2 separate regions of the Homo sapiens genome follow, and region 2 is linked to region 1. The links come from fine-mapping of genetic effects on gene expression. A gene starts in region 1. The other region holds a variant in brackets. All regions are shown on one strand. Distances are from middle to middle. Region 1 holds the start of SNED1 (sushi, nidogen and EGF like domains 1). Region 2 holds the start of SNED1-AS1 (SNED1 antisense RNA 1).

Region 1 (9,555 bases):
ATGGACCCCCAGAACCACCTCATGGAGCTGGAGCCACACATACGCTTGCGACCTTGGAGGCCTCCATGGTCTGGCTCTTCCTCTGCCTGCCCTCTCCGGTGGGCAGAGGTGATAAATGTGCCTGAGGTTTCCGAAAGCCAGGAGACCCTCCCCCACACAAGGCAGGGATGCAGGCAGGGGCCCAGCTCCTGTCTGAGACAGAACACAAAATCCCTTCGGATTCCTGCCACCCTTGAGGCTCGCCGAGGAATGTGGGGCACGCAGGGGCTGTTGGAGGGTCCCATCCAGCCTCTGGCCAGGAAGCTCCGACGCTCTGACAGGCCCTCAGGTGCCTGGGTCCGGGGGCAGCACCCTTTGCAGGCATCCAGGGGTTGCAGACCAACACAGGGAGGGGACAAATGGGAGAGGAAGGCCCCCTGGGGAGGGGGCACTGGAGGAGGGGCCATGTTGAACGCAGACGGCGGCACCCAAGGACAGGCCAGCCCTCTGAAGCACCCCAGGTTGAGGGAAGCACAAGCTTTGGTTGGCTGAAGCCGGGGCAGGAAGCCGGCCAGCTGGAACCAAGGGCATTGTTTATCTGGGCTTCCAAAACATTCATACTTTTCAAATTAATTGCAAAAAATGTTAGCAGGGAAACATAGAAAGGAGAATGTAACCACCACCATAATCTGTGACCTGCAGAGCCCCGAGGTGACACCCAACTCTCCCTTTTTCTAGCACACGTGTGCTTAGGACGGTTGAGGCCATAGCGTGGATGCTACTCAGAGTACTATTTTTTAAAACTTTTGCTTGACACAATACCGTTAGAGTTTTCCCGAATCACTAAAAACGTCTCAGAGCATGGTTTTTTTGCTGCGGAAGCTCCGGGGCATCGGAGGACCCTGGGCCTGAGTGTCCCTCCACTGCTGGCTGTCCCTGCCATCCTGGAGCCCACAGAGAATGGGGCTCTGTCCTGTCTTGGGCACTCAGGAGATGGACAAGGCTCTCAACGGGAGGCAGGGTCTCGTCATCCCCAGGACAGGGAGAGCCGATGCCTGAGCCCACGCAGCAGTGAACATCCTGGGAAGGAAGTGTTGAACCCCAGTCCCATCGTTTCCCTAAGAGCAACCACAGAAGTCCCGTCATGGGAGTCAATGTGTGTGCGGCTCCGTGTGCATGAGAAGAGGAGGTACAGGGCAGGCTGCATGGCCCCCACACTCCCTCAGGGCCAACTGCACCAAGACCCCAACCAGCCACACAGGACAGTGACCAGGTGAGCAGGTGGAGCGGCCCTTGGTCCCTGTGACCTCCTGGCCTCATTCCGGAGCATGTGGAGGTTTACTTGGGATCAGCGCTTCTGGGGCAGGGGACCTGCACTCCACCTGCCACTTCTGGGAGAGAAGGAGAGAAAGTTAGGGTGGGCTACAGCCAGCCAGCCCCTGCCCCTGGCAGCTCAGGCCTGAACCCCCAGGATCTTCCACCCTGTGAAGACCAAACAGGCCCAGCCAACCAGGTGCAGGTTGGGGAGGGCACCCCCACCTTGGCCTGCGTGGAGCCCCGAGTCCTGGGGCATCCTGAGGGCAGCTCCCGGGGCACCCCATCTAAATTGCACACACGCTCAGGCCCTAAATTAAAATGTCACAGGCCGGTTGGGGAGGCTCGGGTTTCCTGGCCACAGAACATGAGCCTGCTTGATAAAACAATTTTGGTTTTGATAAATGTGGATTTTCTGTGGCAGAGACAAAGGCGCCCTTGAGTCCAGAGGGGAGCCTAAAACAGCACATTGCTGAAAAGTATTTCCTGATAATATTTTTAGCACCTGAGAAAAACATTTTTTTTTCTCTTTTTTGCCTGCAGAGTTGTGTTGTTTTTTTTTTGTTTTTTTTTTTTTTAATGAAATGTAATGCCCAGCAGCAGCGGGGCCTTTTGTTAACCCCCAGCTCCCCGGGCCCGGCTGAAAATCTGCACAGGGTGCAGGCCGAGGCTGGTCAGCAGGGTACAGGCCCGAGGAAGTGTGGCCTCTCTGGGCCATGAGCAGGGTCTGGCCCACTGCCAGCCACGCCCCAGGCCCATGAGCTCTGACTCTCTGGGACGAGGACGGGCCTGAGCGTTTCCAGCACTGCTCAGCGACCCCCGTGAGGCCCACCAGCCCACCCGCCTGAAGAAACAGGCCTCCACTCGGTGCAGCCACTGAGTGCCACTGTGTGCCCCAAGGTGCCCTGGGCGGCCCTGCCCCCAAGTTGACCCAAACCCAGCCCAGAAATGGGTTGTTACCCAGGTCCCTGTCTTGTGTGCTCAAGAGAAGGTCAGCAGTGGGGAGAAGGGCGCCTGGCCTGGGCAGCTGGCTGGGAGGCAGCACCCCAGGCTGGGCTCTGAGAGCAGAGCAGGAGCATGTGGTGGGAAGTGGATGGGTAGTAGGGACAGGGCAGGAGGTGGGCCAGCCCTAGTGGGGGTCAAAGCCTCACGTCCCCATGACAACACCTCTTCAGCGGAGAAATCCTGCCCTGGGGTTGGCACTGCCGCCTCCCACCTTCGCAAACTCACCGGAGGGGCCTTCCAGCCAGGCCCCAAATGCACTGAAAAGAGGGTAGAGGGCTGCCAGGTTTTTCTAGAAAAAAGACAAATAGAAAAGCGTTCTCCCTGATTCCCGCCACGGTGACGCCTGGCAGCTCTGTTCCCAACGCTGCTACATGGGGCCTTGTCCTGACTCCACGGCCTGTGCCAGCCAGAGGTGGGAGCAGCCCTCCCTGACCAGGGAGGCCAGGGCTGGGCTGAGGAAGGGGTTAAAGCATGTTCTTGAGGCCCCACGTATGGGCATATGCTGCCTCCGTGCATGTGAATAAGTATGCATGTGTGCGTGGACGTGTGTGCATGTGCGTGGAGACATGTCTCTCCTTGCCAGGCTCTCACCGAGAGCCGGCCTCAAGTAGGGATTCTACAGTTCCACGCCCTCTCTGGTGCCTCCCTCCAAAGACAGGAGGCCTTGACCTTTCTGGCCCTGGAACCATGGCTGTGCTGCTGTCCTGGAGCTCTGAAAGCTGGGACGGTGACCTAAGGGCTAACTGCGGGACAGAGCCCTTCCCCTCCCAGGCCCAGTTTGCCTCTCTGCAAACAGAATTGCCACCCCATGCAGGGTGGGAGAGGCGCCAGGGGCAAGCTTTCAGGAGGTGCCAGTGCAGGGTCAGCTCCTCCTTAACAATTCTGCACCCGGCCCTGACACCAAGTCTAAAGGGTCATGAACCTCTGAGTGAAAACACCAAGTGCAGGATCTGTGAGAACCGGCAACACCCAGTCACACGCAGAGAACCCTCCGCTGCTTCTTAAAAATAACATTGACTGTGCCTGGCTCTCACTGAAAAACAACACGTGCTCACTTGAGATATTTCAGAAGATACAAACGCAAAGACAAACAAAAAACCACCCAGCACCTCAGTGGTAGATGCAGTTACCATCAGCCCGGCCTTTCCTGCTTGTCTTCGAGGGGTGCACTCTTATCTTTGGGGGCCCCAGTGTGGCACGCAGCCAACACCACCCAACACCAGGATCTAAGAGAAGAGACCACGGTGGGCCGGGTGAGTTCCAGGAATCAGACCCTGCCATGGGCCTGGGGACATAGAGGTGGTCCCGGCTGAGGCCCTGAGGAAGGACAGACAGGCAGCCCAGGCCAGCAGCCCAAGAGACAGGGGGCAGGGCTGGCAGGCCACAGGGTGGGGACCCTGAATTCAAATACTGGGACTCAGAGTCCTGCCCCCACCTGCCAAGGCCGGTGTCATGCACGCACTTGCCCCCAGGGCCTGAGTGGGTCAGTCTTCCCCACGGAGGGTTTGCTTTACCCAGGGGTCGCCCCGAGGTCCCGAGCCTCCCAGGAATTTCTCCTGATGCGGCCACGCAGATGCAAACACTTTGTTCCATGCCTCCTAGTCTCCGGCCCGGGCTCTTCCTCACACAGACCCAGGCAGGGAGTGGGCTCCGGGGTTAGTCTGCCCCTGTGGCTGGAAGCCTGGCGTCCCCATGCTCAGGGCTGGGAAGGGGGCAGCACGGAACGGGTTCATTCAGGCACTGCCTGGCCAGGGTCCCCTCCCGCCCCCCGCGTGATGACACGCCTTCAGGGCGGGCCCAGCGTCTCAGGCCTTAGGGACACAGGTCTGTCCCAGGACGGCACTGAGGGCCCAGGCGCCTCCACCAGGGTAGGGACCCAGGGCGGAGCATGGCCCCACCACAGGGCGCGCGCCCGCAGAGCCCTCACCTTGCCTGTGCCCACGCCAGGGGACTGAGCTCCCCGCGCGCCCGCGCCCTCCCACGGGGCCTGGCGCTTTAAGAGACGCCCGATTTGCATGGCCCCGCCCCCCCGAGTGACCGCCGGGCTGGATATTTAAATCGTGGCCCCAGGGGCGGGGCTGGCCCCGAACGCGGTCCCGCCCGGCGCTTTCCTCTGCGGAGCTGCGGCGAGAGCGCGGCCCGGCCGAACGGGCGCGGGACGCGGAGCCCCCGACGGCGCGGCCAGCGGGCGCGCCCGCGCTCCCCGCACCCCGCCTGGCCCTGCCGGCCACCCCCGCGCGCAGCCTAGTCCCCCAGCGCCCTGCTCCGCCAGCGCCCCGTCCCGCCCGCACACCTCCGCGATGCGGCACGGCGTCGCCTGGGCGCTGCTGGTGGCCGCGGCCCTGGGGCTTGGGGCGCGCGGGGTGCGCGGCGCGGTGGCCCTTGCCGACTTCTACCCGTTCGGCGCCGAGCGCGGCGACGCCGTCACCCCCAAGCAGGACGACGGCGGCTCGGGGCTGCGGCCGCTCTCGGTGCCCTTCCCGTTCTTCGGTGCCGAGCACTCCGGACTCTACGTGAGTAACCCCCGGGCTCGCGGGGCGCCCGGGAGGGGAGGGAGCTGCGCCCCGGCCGCTGCCCGCCGGGCCCGGACTCCCGCCGCCGCCGCCAGCCACTTGGCACCGGGGCGGCCCGAGGTGGAATGAGGACAGCGCTTCCTCCTCGGCGGCCAAGGCCGGACAGCGGCCCGCGGGAGAGGCGCGCGGGCGGGGCGGGGGCGGCAGCCGCCGGGCACCGAGGCGGGGGCGAGTGGAGCGCGGCGCCCCGGCCCCTGCCAGACCTGCCGAGCGCGTCTTCCCGGCGCCTGATTCCCAGGGGAGAGCAGGGGTCCTGGTACTGCCCTGGTTTTCACACATGGCAATGTGGCCGTGGGCACGGGCTTCCCGGGCCTCAGTTTCCCAAGTGGGGCGCCGGGCCTGCGAAGGTTGCAGCCCCTCCTTGGGCCATTTCAGCCCCGCCCCCCGTGGACGCCAGTGCGGCCCAGAGCCAGGAGGCTGGACCCCTTGCCCAGGCGCTCAGGGCAGGGCCTGCTTCTTCGCTGACCCTCCTAGGCGGGCTAGCAACAGGCTTGCCCCTCCCTGCCGTCCTCTCCGCAGTCTGGGGGCTGGCCGCTCAGGCTCAGACTCTCCAAACAGGACTCCCAGTGGGACTCCTGGGGCCAGGGACTCATGACAGCAGGCTCAGCTCAGCTGAAGGAACAGGCCCGAGTGCCGGTTCTGTCTCCATGGCTCCCAGAGTGTGACCCCAGGCCAAGCCCTTATGGCAGCCCAGGGAATGAAATGCACCTGGTAACTGCATGGAGCACTCGCCCTGAGTAGGCCACGGTGCACTGGTACCTGGTGGTTCCCTGAAACACCCCAGATCATATCTAGAAAACTGCTGGGCCAGCCTCAAGTAGAGTCCCCTCCAGCTCCGTCACCACGGCCACCTCCACCATCAGCCCTCTCATACCCTCGCCCACCTCCAGCCTCAACCCACTGCCAGCCACATCGCCTCTGCCATCTGTGCTGCCCGGAGTAACACCACCTGTACTGCCAACTCCTCCGTCAACACCACCTCCTTCAACCCCACCACCAGCAGCACTGCCTCCACCACCACCTTCCCCATGGTCCCCAGCTTCCCGTCGTCACCATCCACATCCTCTGCATGGTTGTCATCATCCCTCCCCACCTCCATCCACAGGGCCTCCTCCACCACATGCCCTCTAGTGCGCCTCCCACCCCACAACTGCCAACACCATCCACAGCGCCCACTGCGTTTTCCACACCTGCTCAGGAAGGCCTCCCCACCTCGGTGGCAGCACTGGGTGACCTGACTGGTGGGAGGGGCAGCCATGCTGTCGGTGCTACCCCCTGAAAGTCCCTCTGGACCGGGACTTGGACAGAGGAACGGGACTGACTCCTGGAAGTACGAAGTGGGTAGGACAGAATGGTGCTCAGCGTTGGCCCGAGCTGGAGGAGGCCTGTCCACTTGAGGTATGGGACACTCACATTGGCACCATCCGAACAGAACTCAAGAGGCTCCTTAAGCATTTGGGCCAGGCTCAGCTTTCCCACTCACAGTCACAGGTGAAAATATTATTAAAATGGTTAACCCACTTAACAGCCTCACCAAAAACATCTGCCCTTGCCAGAGCAACTAGGGGAAACAGCTCTAACGTGGGAAGATCTGCTAGGAGAACTAGGGTTTCGTCAGAAATGAACCTTCTGGCTGCTAACAAAACATTTATCTCCATCGGAGCTTTTTCCTGAAACAAAGATATTATTTGAAAACCATTTGCCGATGTGGACACAGTGCCTGCAGTGCACTTCACCTTTCTGTTTGCTCAGCAGGAGGCTTGAGGCTGCGTTGCCCAGGACACCTTGCCTGAAGTAACTGTGCGGACTCTGTGGTCAAGCAGGGAGAGAGAAAGGGGTGCTTGGCAGCAGGTTAGGGCTGAAGCCAGGTGGAAAGAAGGGAGGCATTTGTTCTGAAGGAAGTGGACCTGCCTGGGGCCTCCCACGCCCACCCAGGCCGAGCGGACCCTCTTCTGAGGCCCCTGGCTCTGGCCCTTGTCCAGCTCCAGTCTATAGGGGCCTCGTGTCTGCTGGCCCTGGACTCAGACTCCCATGTCAGGCCCAGCCAGGACCCTCCAGCCCCCATCCCACTGCAGTGACCTCTGCGCTCCTCCGCCCCCAGCCTGTCGCTTGACCAAGAGTAGGCTTGTTGTCTGAATGAATGAATGTGCCTCCCTCTGACACTGCCTGCAAGTCACAGGTAGAAATTAGAAGTGCTCTTGCATGAGATGGGTGCTTCTTCTGTCTTCATCAGAAATAGCACATGGATTACTGCCCTAGCAAGACAGCTCTGCCACACATGGAGTGGCCCCCTTTCCAGAAGGGACCCATTGTTTTGCTTCTTTCTCATGTCATAGTAGCTGTATGTGTGTGGTAAGTCGTAAGGCTCTGAAAAGTGTTGAAAGTGCATTTTATTGCTAAGGTTCTACACACAGACAAAGATAATGCAGCCGAGGAGCGTGGCGCGCCGAGGAGTGTGGCGTGCTGAGGAGTGTGGCATGCTGCCGCTATCCTGCCATGCAGGAACTGCCAGTGTCTGCATTAAGACGGAGCTTGCCGCGGTCTGTGGGGCTTATGCAGGTGGAGTGGTTTCCTAGGGGCAGGTGCAGGGAATGAGAGACGAAATCTTCCTGGTGCCCCCTACACTGAAGCTCCTGGCTCCAAGCACTGCCCCCATCCACAGCATGGTCTCTGGGCCATGGGAGGATCTCAGTTTCTTTGGCATCAGGACCCCCGACAGAGCCCTGAGCAGAGGCAGGGAGGATTTGAGGGTCAAGAGTGGGTGGTGCCCTGCAGAGCCCGCAGGCAAGAAGGAGGAATGTGGACAGTCAGACTGACCCTCGCTGGTGCTGGCTAAACCCCCACTCTGTGCCCTGAGGCTTCGTGCCACACCGCAAGTCTGCTGGCTCTGGCTCTGCACAACATTACCATCCAGGCACAGTCCCGGCCCTACCCCTCCCAGAACACGGAGCCCAGGGCAGCTGCTCTGGTGTGGGAGTTCACATGCAGCCTGTGACCTTTGCCTGGTCATTTCCTCCCTGAGCCTCTGTCTCCCCATCTGTGTGGTGAAGCTCCCCCATCAGGTCATACCTGTGACACACCCCATCACTGTCACGGTTGTGTGGTCGCCAGCTCCAAGCCATCTGGAAAATCCACCCTGACCCACAGGGACTGTCTCAGTGGGACCGAGGCCTGCGCATGAGTGGATCTGGGAGCAGACATGTGGGGAGAAATCACTGCCATCTCTGCTCTCTTCTGAGCTCATGGAACACCCCAGCAAATGCAGGAGCCCCTTGGCTGGGAGGAGGGTCCTGGGCTTCCCCTTGGCTGCCCTATTCACTGAGGTTCCCGGGCTGGCCCACCCCCTGCTATGGGCTTGGCCAAGGTGGTCCTGCCCCTCATCAGCATGCCCTTCTTGCTGCTGCCTGGGTGTGACGGAAGCAGATGGAAGGGGATCCTGGGGAAGTGGAATGGGGCTGGAGTCGAGGAGGATGCTGGAGTGAGAGAGCCTGATGACTCCAGGTCAAGGCCATGAGCCCAGGACAGCTGTGATCTGCCTGGACCTCACAGGCAGCCCCTGAGAGGATGGAGCAGGACGTCATGCCCAGTGCAGATGAGGAAACCGAGGCTCAGAATGCAGATTCAGGGGCCTTCAGACTCCTGCGTCCAGCTGCCTCTTACTGTGCCACCCCAAACTCAGTGGGACCCAAACAGAAGTCCTGCTTCCTCCCTGGCGCCCACCCATCTCCATGAATAAACCCCTGAGAGCCTCCCCAATGCCTCCCTCCTCTCCCTCACCCTCCACGTCAGCAGCAGCTCCGCCTGCCTCTCTACTTGGACCACTTCCCAGCTGTCCATCCCCACTTGCCTGGACACCTGCAGCACCCCCTTGCTGACCTCCAGCTCTTGGCCTTTCCCTCCAGCCTGCCCTCCTCTGTGCAGAGTGACCAAGGGAGCCATACAAAACACCAGTGGGATCCTGTCTCTCCTCGCCAGAATCCCCGCTACGCTTCCCTGCCCCCCTCCGCCCTCCCCCGGGCCCCCCGCTCAGGCACTCCCCCAGCCCCACCCTCTGTGCTCACTGCAGCTTGTTGGTTCTGACCTCAGCTGGGTTGCTCCTTAGTTTTCTTGTTTGGGAGGTGTTGGGATGTGCACCCCATGAAGGCAGGGACCACATCCATCCTCATGCCACCATTCTGGTGTTGGGCTCAGAATAGGCCTCAGACGACAGCCTGGGGCTGCAGTGGTGGTGGTGCCCTGGTGAAGGACTCTCTCTTCCACCCCTGCTGAGGCCAGAGGATGCATGCAGCAAGATGCCTGCACCCTGAGCAGTAAGTCCTCCTGTGCCACATCCACATGGTGGGCTCATGGTCTTGGCCACCAGCACATTTCTGCACCGTGTGTTCCCCAAAGCAGAAGCAGTCCCACCTTCCCTGACAGGGTGAGCCTTAGCCTGGGAGTCAGCTTTTCCACACAGAGATGCAGGACCTGCACACTTCAGCCTCAGCCCACAGCCGACTCCCTCCCAGGACTGGCCTGACCCATGGCACAGGCACAGCTGTTGGAACATGGTAGTGTGGTAGGGGGTCCTGGCTGCATGCTGGGCCCCATAAGGAAAGTCTCTGTCTGCACTGCCCCACCTCTGCAGGTGACCTGCTTAGAGAAGAGACTCACAGGGAAGACAGGTCAGTTTGTGTGATACTGA
Region 2 (9,555 bases), 64 kb after region 1:
ATTAAATGTCTGACTTCAGAAGTTAGGAAAAAAAATACGAAATGATGCTGAAAAAAGTAGAAGGAAAGAGGAATAAAGGTAAAAGCCATAATTAATGAAGTAGAGATCCAAGATACAAAAGAAAGGACAAGCCAAAATTAGTTCTTTGAAAAGCCTAATGTAACATGTTTAGTGGATATAGATTACAACAAAATTAATTATGTGCTTATGTATCAGCAACCAACAATTAGAAAATGTAATTATAAAAAAGACAGATACAGAGAAAGATCAATGAAACCAAAAGCTATTTCCTTGAAAAGATCATTAAAATTGGGCCGGGCGCGGTGGCTCATGCCTGTAATCGCAGCACTTTAGGAGGCCGAGGCAGGCACATCACAAGGTCAGGAGATGGATACCATCCTGGCTAACACGGTGAAACCCCGTCTCTACTAAAAATACAAAAAATTAGCTGGGCGAGGTGGCGGGCGCCTGTAGTCCCAGCTACTCAGGAGGCTGAGGCAGGAGAATGGTGTGAACCTGGGAGGCGGAGCTTGCAGTGAGCCAAGATCGCACCACTGCACTCCAGCCTGGGTGACACAGCAAGACTCTGTTTCAAAAAAAAAAAAATCATTAACATTGATAAACCCTAGCTAGACTGATCAGGAAAAAAAGAGAGAAATTAGCAAGATCAAAATAGAAAAGGAGATCCTACCTCGTGTTTACAGTGGAGTCCTTTAAACATTAAAGATCCTGCCAGTACTTAAAGGACAAGAGAACACCTATGAGCAATTTTAGGCCAATGTATCTGACAACTTAGGGGAAATGGATACCCTGAAAGACAAATTACCAGAACTGACACAAGAATAATAGAAAACATATACAGCCTTATATCTGTTACACTTAATTTGTAATTAAAAACCTTCCTCAGAACAGCTGTGTCAGATTGCTTCACGGATGAATTCTACCAAATGTTTAAGAAAGGAATGATACCAACTTTGTACAACCTCTTTTAGAAAGAGCTACATATTTTTTAGAAAATCTAGGAGGGAAGAACACTTCTCATTTGATACCAAACTCAATTGATACCCAACTTATTTGATAACTTCTCAACTCACCTTGATACCAAAACCAGACACAGACACTACAAAATTTGAAGTTACAGACTGGTATCTCTCAAGAACATAGACACAACAATCCAAACAAAATATTACTAAGTCAAGCTCAGTACTATATAAAAGAATGATACAGTCATGACCAAGTGGGATTTTTCTCAAGGACACAGGTTGGTCTAACTTTTAATGTCAATCAATGTACTTCATCATATTAGGAGATGAAAGAGAAAACTATATATCTCAATAGATGCAGGAAATTATTTGACAAATTCAACTGGTATTTAAAATTCTTAGTCAACTAAGAGTAGAAGATAATTTCCTCAACCTGATAAAGGACATCCATTAAAAACCTCAGCTACCAGTGTACTCAGTGGTGAAAGACTCCACCTGGAATCCGTACAAGGCAAGGTGTCCATTCAGTACGTATTCCCAGCATTTTCCTGGAGGCCCTAGACAGTGCCAGATGACAAGAAAAGGAAATAAAAGGAAGGAAAGGAAGAAAGAATTAGAGATCACATGATTGTATGCATAGAAAATCCTAAGGAAATTCTACAAAAGAAGCTATAGAACTAACAAGTGAATTCAACTAGATCCCAGGATACAGGGTCAGTATATAGAACCTGTTGTAGCAGTGAACACTTTGAAATGAAAGTGTTACATTAATAGCATCAAAAACATGATAAATTTTTAAATGCGTAAAAGGAACTATAAACATAAATGTAAAAGCTAAAACTATAAACTTTTTTTTTTTTTTTGAGACAGAATCTCACTCTTGCCCAGGCTGGAGTGCAGTGGCACAATCTCGGCTCACTGCAACCTCCGCCTCCCTGGTTCAAGCGATTCTCCTGCCTCAGTCTCCCAAGTAGCTGGGATTACAGGCACTCACCACCATACCCAGCTAATTTTTGTATTCCTAATAGAGACGGGGTTTCACCATGTTGGCCAGGCTGGTCTTGAACTCCTGACCTCTGGTGATCCACCCGCCTTGGGCTCCCAAAGTGCTGGATTACAGGCGCGAGCCACCATGCCCGTCCCTAACTATAAACTTCTAAAAGAAAGAAATACAAAAGCATATGAGAAAATATTCATGAGAGCTGGAATACAATGGTTTTGTACTTGGAAAAATATTATATTGGTTCTCTATTTTTCATACACTGGAATTAAATCCAGGTGGATTAAAGACCTAAATGTTTCTTTAAAAAAAAACTATACAGGGCCGGGCACATGGCTCATGCCTATAATCCCAGCACTTTGGGAGGCCAAGACAGGAGTTTTGTTTGAGCCCAGCCTGTGCAGCATAGAGAGACCCCCAACTCTACAAAAATAAACTAAAATTAACCAGGCGTAGTGGCATGCACCTGTAGTCCCAGCTACTCAGGAGGCTAGGGTGGGAAGATCACTTGAAACCGGAGTTCAAAGCTGCAGTGAACTGTGATTGCACCGCTGCATTCCAGCTTGGGGGACAGGGTGAGACCCTGTCTCAAAAAAAAACAACCAAAAAAAACTATATAATTTTGTGTGGAAAATATAGGTAAATATATTTTTGACTTTGGGGTAGTGAAAGACTCCTTAAGCCACAAAAAGAATTTAAAAAGAAATGATGAACATACTTGACCATATGAAAATTAGAACCTAAATCCATAAACCTTAAGAAAGTGAAATCTAAACTACAAACTGGGAGAAGAGATAAATAGTCTCAAGACTACATGAAGAACTCTGATAAATCAATGAGAAAACAACCTAATAGGAAAATAGAAAAAAAAACATGCATAGGCATTTCATGGAAGAAGAGATACAAAAGGCCAACAAACATAAAAAGAAATATTCTATTTCATTAGTAATCAGGGAAATGCAAATCAAAAGTGCAATGAGGTACATTCAGCTGGTAAATTTTCAGAAGTCTGAAAAGCCTATACCGGTGAGAATGTGGATCAACAAGATTTCTTATGCATTGCTGGCAAGAGTATAAATTGCTAGAAGCACTTTGAAAACAATGTGGCACTCTGCCTGTTGAGCAATCTGCCCACTGTTGCTCATTTACGTCAACTGTGTTCCAGCAATTGCACTTCTGGGTATAAACCTAAGAAAAACTTCACGTCTGCACCAGGAGATGGGAAAGAATATACACAGCAACATTTTTTGTAAAAGCAAAAAGTCTAGGCTGGGCGTAGACTCATGCCTGTAATCCCAGCACTTTGGGAGGCTGAGGCAGGCGGATCACGAAGTCAGGAGTTCGAGACCAGCCTGGCCAACATAGTGAAACCCCATCTCTACTAAAAATACAAAAATTAGTCGGGCATGGTGGTGGGCGCCTTTAGTCCCAGCTACTCGGGAGGCGGAGGTTGTGGTGAGCCAAGATCATGCCACTGCACTCCAGCCTGGGCAACGAGCGAAACTCCATCCCCCCAAAAAAAAAAAAAGAAAAAAAGAAAACAAAAAAAGGAAAAAGTCTAGAACCAACCCAAAGACCCAGCCAGTGAGAATGGGTGAAGTATGATATAACCACACTGTGTAATGTTATTCAGCAGTGAAAATCTATGAACCACAGTGACCTACAGTGTGGAGTTCTCTTCTTCATATAATGCTGAGAGAAGACAATATATATCATGATGTACTATGAATAAAGTTCATAAACAACAAAAACATTCACTATTGTTTAGGCAATTTATAAAATTTTTAAGCTAATTTTAATTACATATTTTACTGCCAGAAAACCTAGTTTTTAAAGACAAGGAAATTATAAACCCAGAGATTCTTATCGCAAGGGAAGAGAAGGGTACACGGTCGGATGAGCCCATTCAGCATTCTGGCTGCCGGGGTGGCTGCTAGTCCCAGATGTCACTAAGTCATTACCATTTATTTACTTTTTAAGCATGAAATTAAACTTTAAAAAAATAAATATTTAAATTCAGGAGCACAACTCCCGCTTGAAAAGAAAGCTGTGGTGAATCATTTAAAACCAAGATTTGTCCCAGATGGACTGGTTTCACAGGTGACTATTATACATTGAAATGGCAAGATGGGACATGAGACATTTTCTGTCAAACCCCTGAGGCCTTTGTCCTGTCGGCCTGAACCACTGGAATTAAGTCCCACAGCGTCTTCTGGGAGCCCTGGGGTGGTTTCAAGCCCGCCCTGCTGCTTCACAGACACAGCCAGGCACTGAGCCCCAGGCCCACTGCCCTGCCCCGACTCCAAGGATATCCAGCCCTGGTCTCTGGCCTTTCCAACCACTGATGATGTATCATCGAATTCTGTCTGGCCCCTCAGGACTAGTTTATGTGCATCTTAATTTGGCTTAATCGTGGCCACATTGCTTTATTCTTGGGCTCTCTCCTCTCAGAAATCGATGAGTGCCGGTCTCAGCCGTGCCTGCATGGGGGCTCTTGTCAGGACCGCGTTGCTGGGTACCTGTGCCTCTGCAGCACAGGCTATGAGGGCGCCCACTGTGAGCTGGGTAAGAGGGGCCCTGGCCCCGCTGGGGTGACAGCTGCAGCACACTGGCCATGTGCCTGAGGCACTGGGTCCCCCGGACAGGTCTCTGTCTGGATGGCCAGGGTGGCCACTGCATGCTTTCTCGGGCCCCTGCCAGCTCTGACATCCAAGACAAAGATTTTACAAATATCCCTTCCTGCACCTCCCCAGGGGAGACTGAGAGCCCAGCTGAGAAATGCTGGCCTGGCTTCAGGGCGCAGAGAAGGTGGGCGTCGGAGAGGGCAGGTCACAGTCTCTGACACCTGGTCGGTGCTTCCAGCCAGTGGAGGGAGGGGAGGCCTGCCCCATGAGCCCTGCACACTCTTGTACCTCGCTAGGGCTCTAAGCCTGAGAAACGCAGGCTCCAGGGAGGGCAAGGCCCAGGGAGCCGTGCCCAGTCGTGGCCCTGGGGAGCCTCCCATTGCGGAGTGGCCTGGAGGAAGGCATGGCCTGGAGGTGGGGCTTTGCCAGCAGGCAGTGGAGGTGGCACGCCTCCCGAGGAGGGGTGGGTTTGGGGCTGATGGAAGAAAAAGCACATGTCCTGAGTAGTTGCTCCCAGCTGGGAAAGGGGTAACTGAAGCCCCAGGAAATGCACGGAATCCTGGGGGCATGTGGGCGCCTCAGACTTGAGCCAGCAACACCCTTGACACCCCTTCTCTGTGCAGAGAGGGATGAGTGCCGAGCTCACCCGTGCAGAAATGGAGGGTCCTGCAGGAACCTCCCAGGGGCCTATGTCTGCCGGTGCCCTGCAGGCTTCGTTGGAGTCCACTGTGAGACAGGTAGGGGCTCC[C/T]TCCAGTGGGCCCCACATGCAGAGCCTGGGCCTCTGGAAGATCAGAGAGGAGGTGGGGCATCCCCACATTCCCTGCTGGGCAGGCCACCTGGGGAGAGGGACCCCCAGGGCTGCGGCCACCTTGGGAGGGAGGGGTGGAGGTGAGGGTGCTGGGGAGGGCTGAGGGGCGGGACCTGCCCACTGCCCCTCTCTCCTGGCCTCCGCCCCTAGACTCCTCCTTTCCCTTCTTCCCGCTGTCCTCTCCTCCCTCCCCCAGACTCCCCCCTTGCAGCTTGGGCCCACTCTCTGGGTGTTCTCCAGAGGTGGACGCCTGCGACTCCAGCCCCTGCCAGCATGGAGGCCGGTGTGAGAGCGGCGGCGGGGCCTACCTGTGCGTCTGCCCAGAGAGCTTCTTCGGCTACCACTGCGAGACAGGTAGGGCGGCAGGCCTGCCTGCTCCCCGCCCTCTGCCCGCCTGCTCCCCGCCCTCTGCCCGCCTGCTGCCCGCCCTCTGCCCGCCTGCTCCCCGCCCTCTGCCCGCCTGCTCCCCGCCCTCTGCCCGCCGCCTTGGAAGTCCCCTTCTCAGGCCAGTGGCCCTCCGCCTGTCTCCCTTGGTCCCACAATGGTGCCTTCTAAACCTCCCCATCTCCTGCGCTCACCCCCCAGACACCCCTCTTCACCCGAGGACACACCCAGGGGTGGGGCCTCACGTCCACACATAGGCCCTGCTGCCCTTGGACAGGCCAAGTTTCTTGCACACCCAGGTCTGGCCCCTGGCTGTCCTTCCATCTGGAACATTCTCCCTAATCAGCCCCCAGTGGGATACCTCCTGATGAGGCTTCCCTGACCACTGACCTCCCCTCCTCAAGCAGGACTGTCACTGGGGTGGTGGCCTGTCCTGTCCTGATCCAGTGTCTCCTCCCCTCAGCCAGTCCGGCTGGTGGCACTCCGCTGTGGAGGGTGGAGGAGCTGCTGGGTTGGGCCCCGCAGGGCAGTGGAGGTGGCAGAACCGAAGGGAGGCAGTAGCTGTCCTGTGCCCCCCGCCCCTCCACACCCACGCAGGAGGGACCCAGTGCCCCAGGAGCAAGGGCGGGGCTGGAGCAGGGACCCCTGGCCACGCCCCAACATACACTGCCACTTTTTCTCCCCTCAGTGAGTGACCCCTGCTTCTCCAGCCCCTGTGGGGGCCGTGGCTATTGCCTGGCCAGCAACGGCTCCCACAGCTGCACCTGCAAAGTGGGCTACACGGGCGAGGACTGCGCCAAAGGTGGGTGGCGAGGGCGCCTCCAGTGAGGGAGCCACGAGGGGGTCCCCTCTCCCTAGAGGGCCCAACGGTCTCCAAGGGCAGAGCGTCTGGCCGCTGCTTGCCCAGGCCCCTTCCCTGAGGAACAGGGAGGGGATAAAATCCCCCGGTGGGCTTGAAACACGGTCACACATTCAAAAGTGTGACCCTCCTGGAGGTACGTGGCCAGGGACAAAGAAGGACTCTGCCAGCGATGGCTGTGTCAGGCCCAAGAGCCAGACCCGGCTGAGCCGCCGACGGGAGCCAGGCATGCATAGCTAACGGCTGACCAGTCCCCTCCCCTTGTTTTGACCCAAACCCTGAAGAGCTCTTCCCACCGACGGCCCTCAAGATGGAGAGAGTGGAGGAGAGTGGGGTCTCTATCTCCTGGAACCCGCCCAATGGTCCAGCCGCCAGGCAGATGCTTGATGGCTACGCGGTCACCTACGTCTCCTCCGACGGCTCCTACCGCCGCACAGACTTTGTGGACAGGACCCGCTCCTCGCACCAGCTCCAGGCCCTGGCGGCCGGCAGGGCCTACAACATCTCCGTCTTCTCAGTGAAGCGAAACAGTAACAACAAGAATGACATCAGCAGGCCTGCCGTGCTGCTGGCCCGCACGCGTGAGTGTCCCCGAGCCTGGCCGTCCCTGCCCAGCCCCTGCCCCTCGAGGGCAGCGCTGGCCCCGGCACCTGCAGGGCGGCTGTCATGCCGTCCACCCTCCTAGTTCTTGCAGCAGCAAGACAGACAGCTGAGCTGGGGGTTGGAGGCACCGCCCTGCTGGAGACAGAGCTGTGTGGGAGTGGCCTTGGGTCCACAAGATACAGGCATGGGATTGGGGCGCATAGAATCGAGCCAAGAGTGGGAGCAGCACAACCCCCAGGCATGGAGCTAGGAAGTGGGACTGGGGAGGAATGGGGGCTTCCCAAAAGGGTCCCTAGAAGGAGCCAGTGTGGGAGACAGGGGCCGCGGGGGTGGGCTTGGGGGGGCTGGGACTCTGGGGTGCTCTGAAGGCCTGGGGAGAGTTTGAAAGAGGCACCTGCTCACAGGGATATGTAGGCGCTGAGGTGTGCTAAGGGGAGGCATCGGTGGCTCAATCGGGAAGAGCCGTGGGGCAGGCCCTAGATGGAATGACAGACCCAGAGCCTCCACCTGGAGCTGGCACTGAAAGCTGTGACCAGATGTGACCCCTGAAGAGGGGGTCCTAGGAGGAGCCTCCTCAGAGCCTGAGCCACCAAGATTGCAGGGGAGGCCCGGGTTGTGCACAGCCTGTGGGGTTGTTGCCGTGTCGGGGAGCAGAAGATGCTGAGCGCTCTAGGGAAGGCGTCAGGGCTTAGCGGGCTTGTGTGCTGCTGGGAGGGATTCTGGGAAGGAGAAAGGAGCCCTAGAACATGGCAGTGGACGGACAGGGGCAGGGCCGGAAGAAAGCAGAGGGCTGGCCTTCCACGGAGCCCGGCCGCATCAGCTAGAGCACAGGGGATCTCGGAACAGGCTGGGCAGGAACCAAGTGGGGTGCAGGGCCATGGGGCCATGGGACTCTCACCCAACATGCCTGTGGCCTCCAGACACAGGAGCAAGAATGGGGAAGGGGTGCTAGAGGCTCGAGGAAAGAGGAAAAGGTGCTGAGAGCACAGACTGCTGCGAAGTGGCGTGATGGATGGATGGGTGGGTGGGTGGCCAGGGCTTCAGGGAGGCCTAAGCATCCAGCAGGGCCCTGCGGGGCGGCCACGTGAGTTTGGTGAAACCTATGGGTAGCATGGCGGGTAGGTGGGGAGGAGCTCGGCGGTTCTCACAGGAGGAAAGCCTCCTGGCCACACCTGGGCCCTAGCTTGATGCCAATGCCAAGGGCATTGAGGGACAGGAGAAGGCATTCAAGGCAGCTTGAGCCCACCCAGAGGCCCACAAGGGCCTGTCCTGCAGGAGTTGACCACCAAGGGGCTGGAGTTCCCAACACAGCAAGGACACAGAGCACACCTCGGCCAGTGGAGAGCCTGGGCGCATGTGCGGGTGGCACTGAGCAGGTGTCAGCAGGAGCTGCCAGGGGCTGAGTAGGGGTGGCTCGCCTGGGCTGTTTTAGGAAGAAGCACCTGCAAGGCCGCCCCATGTGAGATCTGCCCTCGGAAGGTATCTGGAGTGAAGACAGAGCCCGCCCTGCCCGCTGCAGAGTTGGGGCTCCAGCCAGCCATGGTGGGTGGAAGGGACCGCTGTCCACAGACCGGGGTGCTGAGTTGCCGGGAGCTGAGCGCTGCCCTCTGGGCTCTGCCTGGTGCATCAGCAGTGGCACTGGAGCTTCGGAGGAGACTGGCTGGGCGGGAAGCGGAGCTCACAAGTGGCCCCTTCCCTGCAGTTGCTGGGAGTTCTGTATGTCTGTCCTCCTAAGACAGCGTTGCCCAGACCAGGCCCGGATGTGTGCTCTTAGACCAAAATAGTCAACTGGCACAGAAAAGGGGAGGTCCGGGTTACTCATGTCCAGAGGGACTCCGGCCCATCCCCTGCCATGTCACTGCCACATCTAAATGGAGACTAAGACCCCTGCCTCTGGTAAGACGGGCTGGCCCACAGCGGGCTCTGCAGCCGTCATGCTCACAGCGGGTTCTGCAGCTGTCAGCCCTGGAGGCCAGAGCCTGGGCATCCCACTCAGCCCGAGTTCCCTGAGCAGTTGATGGGACACCCTCTCCAGTGCCTCTCTGTGGCCCCCAGCACCCTCCCAAGCCTGGTTTCATCTTGAGCCCCTGCACTCCCCCAGGAGCAAGGAGGGGCCGGCACCTGCTGAACAGTCCATTCCCCCTAGGACCCCGCCCTGTGGAAGGCTTCGAGGTCACCAATGTGACGGCTAGCACCATCTCAGTGCAGTGGGCCCTGCACAGGATCCGCCATGCCACCGTCAGTGGGGTCCGTGTGTCCATCCGCCACCCTGAGGCCCTCAGGGACCAGGCCAC

The links.
Region 2: its variant is fine-mapped to the expression of SNED1 in whole blood (TOPMed, PIP 0.97).

The regions. Positions count from the first base shown.
Region 1 is chr2:240,994,240-241,003,794 of GRCh38, forward strand. It overlaps SNED1 (sushi, nidogen and EGF like domains 1), which reads left to right and starts at 4,379. Exons shown (of 32, transcript NM_001080437.3): 1 at 4,379-4,811. The coding sequence starts at 4,599. RefSeq lists a silencer at 4,011-4,430.
Region 2 is chr2:241,058,357-241,067,911 of GRCh38, forward strand. SNED1 (sushi, nidogen and EGF like domains 1) reads left to right here. Exons shown (of 32, transcript NM_001080437.3): 17 at 4,435-4,548; 18 at 5,231-5,344; 19 at 5,656-5,769; 20 at 6,488-6,601; 21 at 6,943-7,239; 22 at 9,408-9,555. SNED1-AS1 (SNED1 antisense RNA 1) reads right to left here and starts at 5,762. Exons shown (of 3, transcript NR_187212.1): 1 at 5,724-5,762. It also overlaps a transcript of MTERF4 not described here. RefSeq lists a silencer at 5,711-5,870. The variant C/T (reference allele first, on the strand shown) is at 5,356.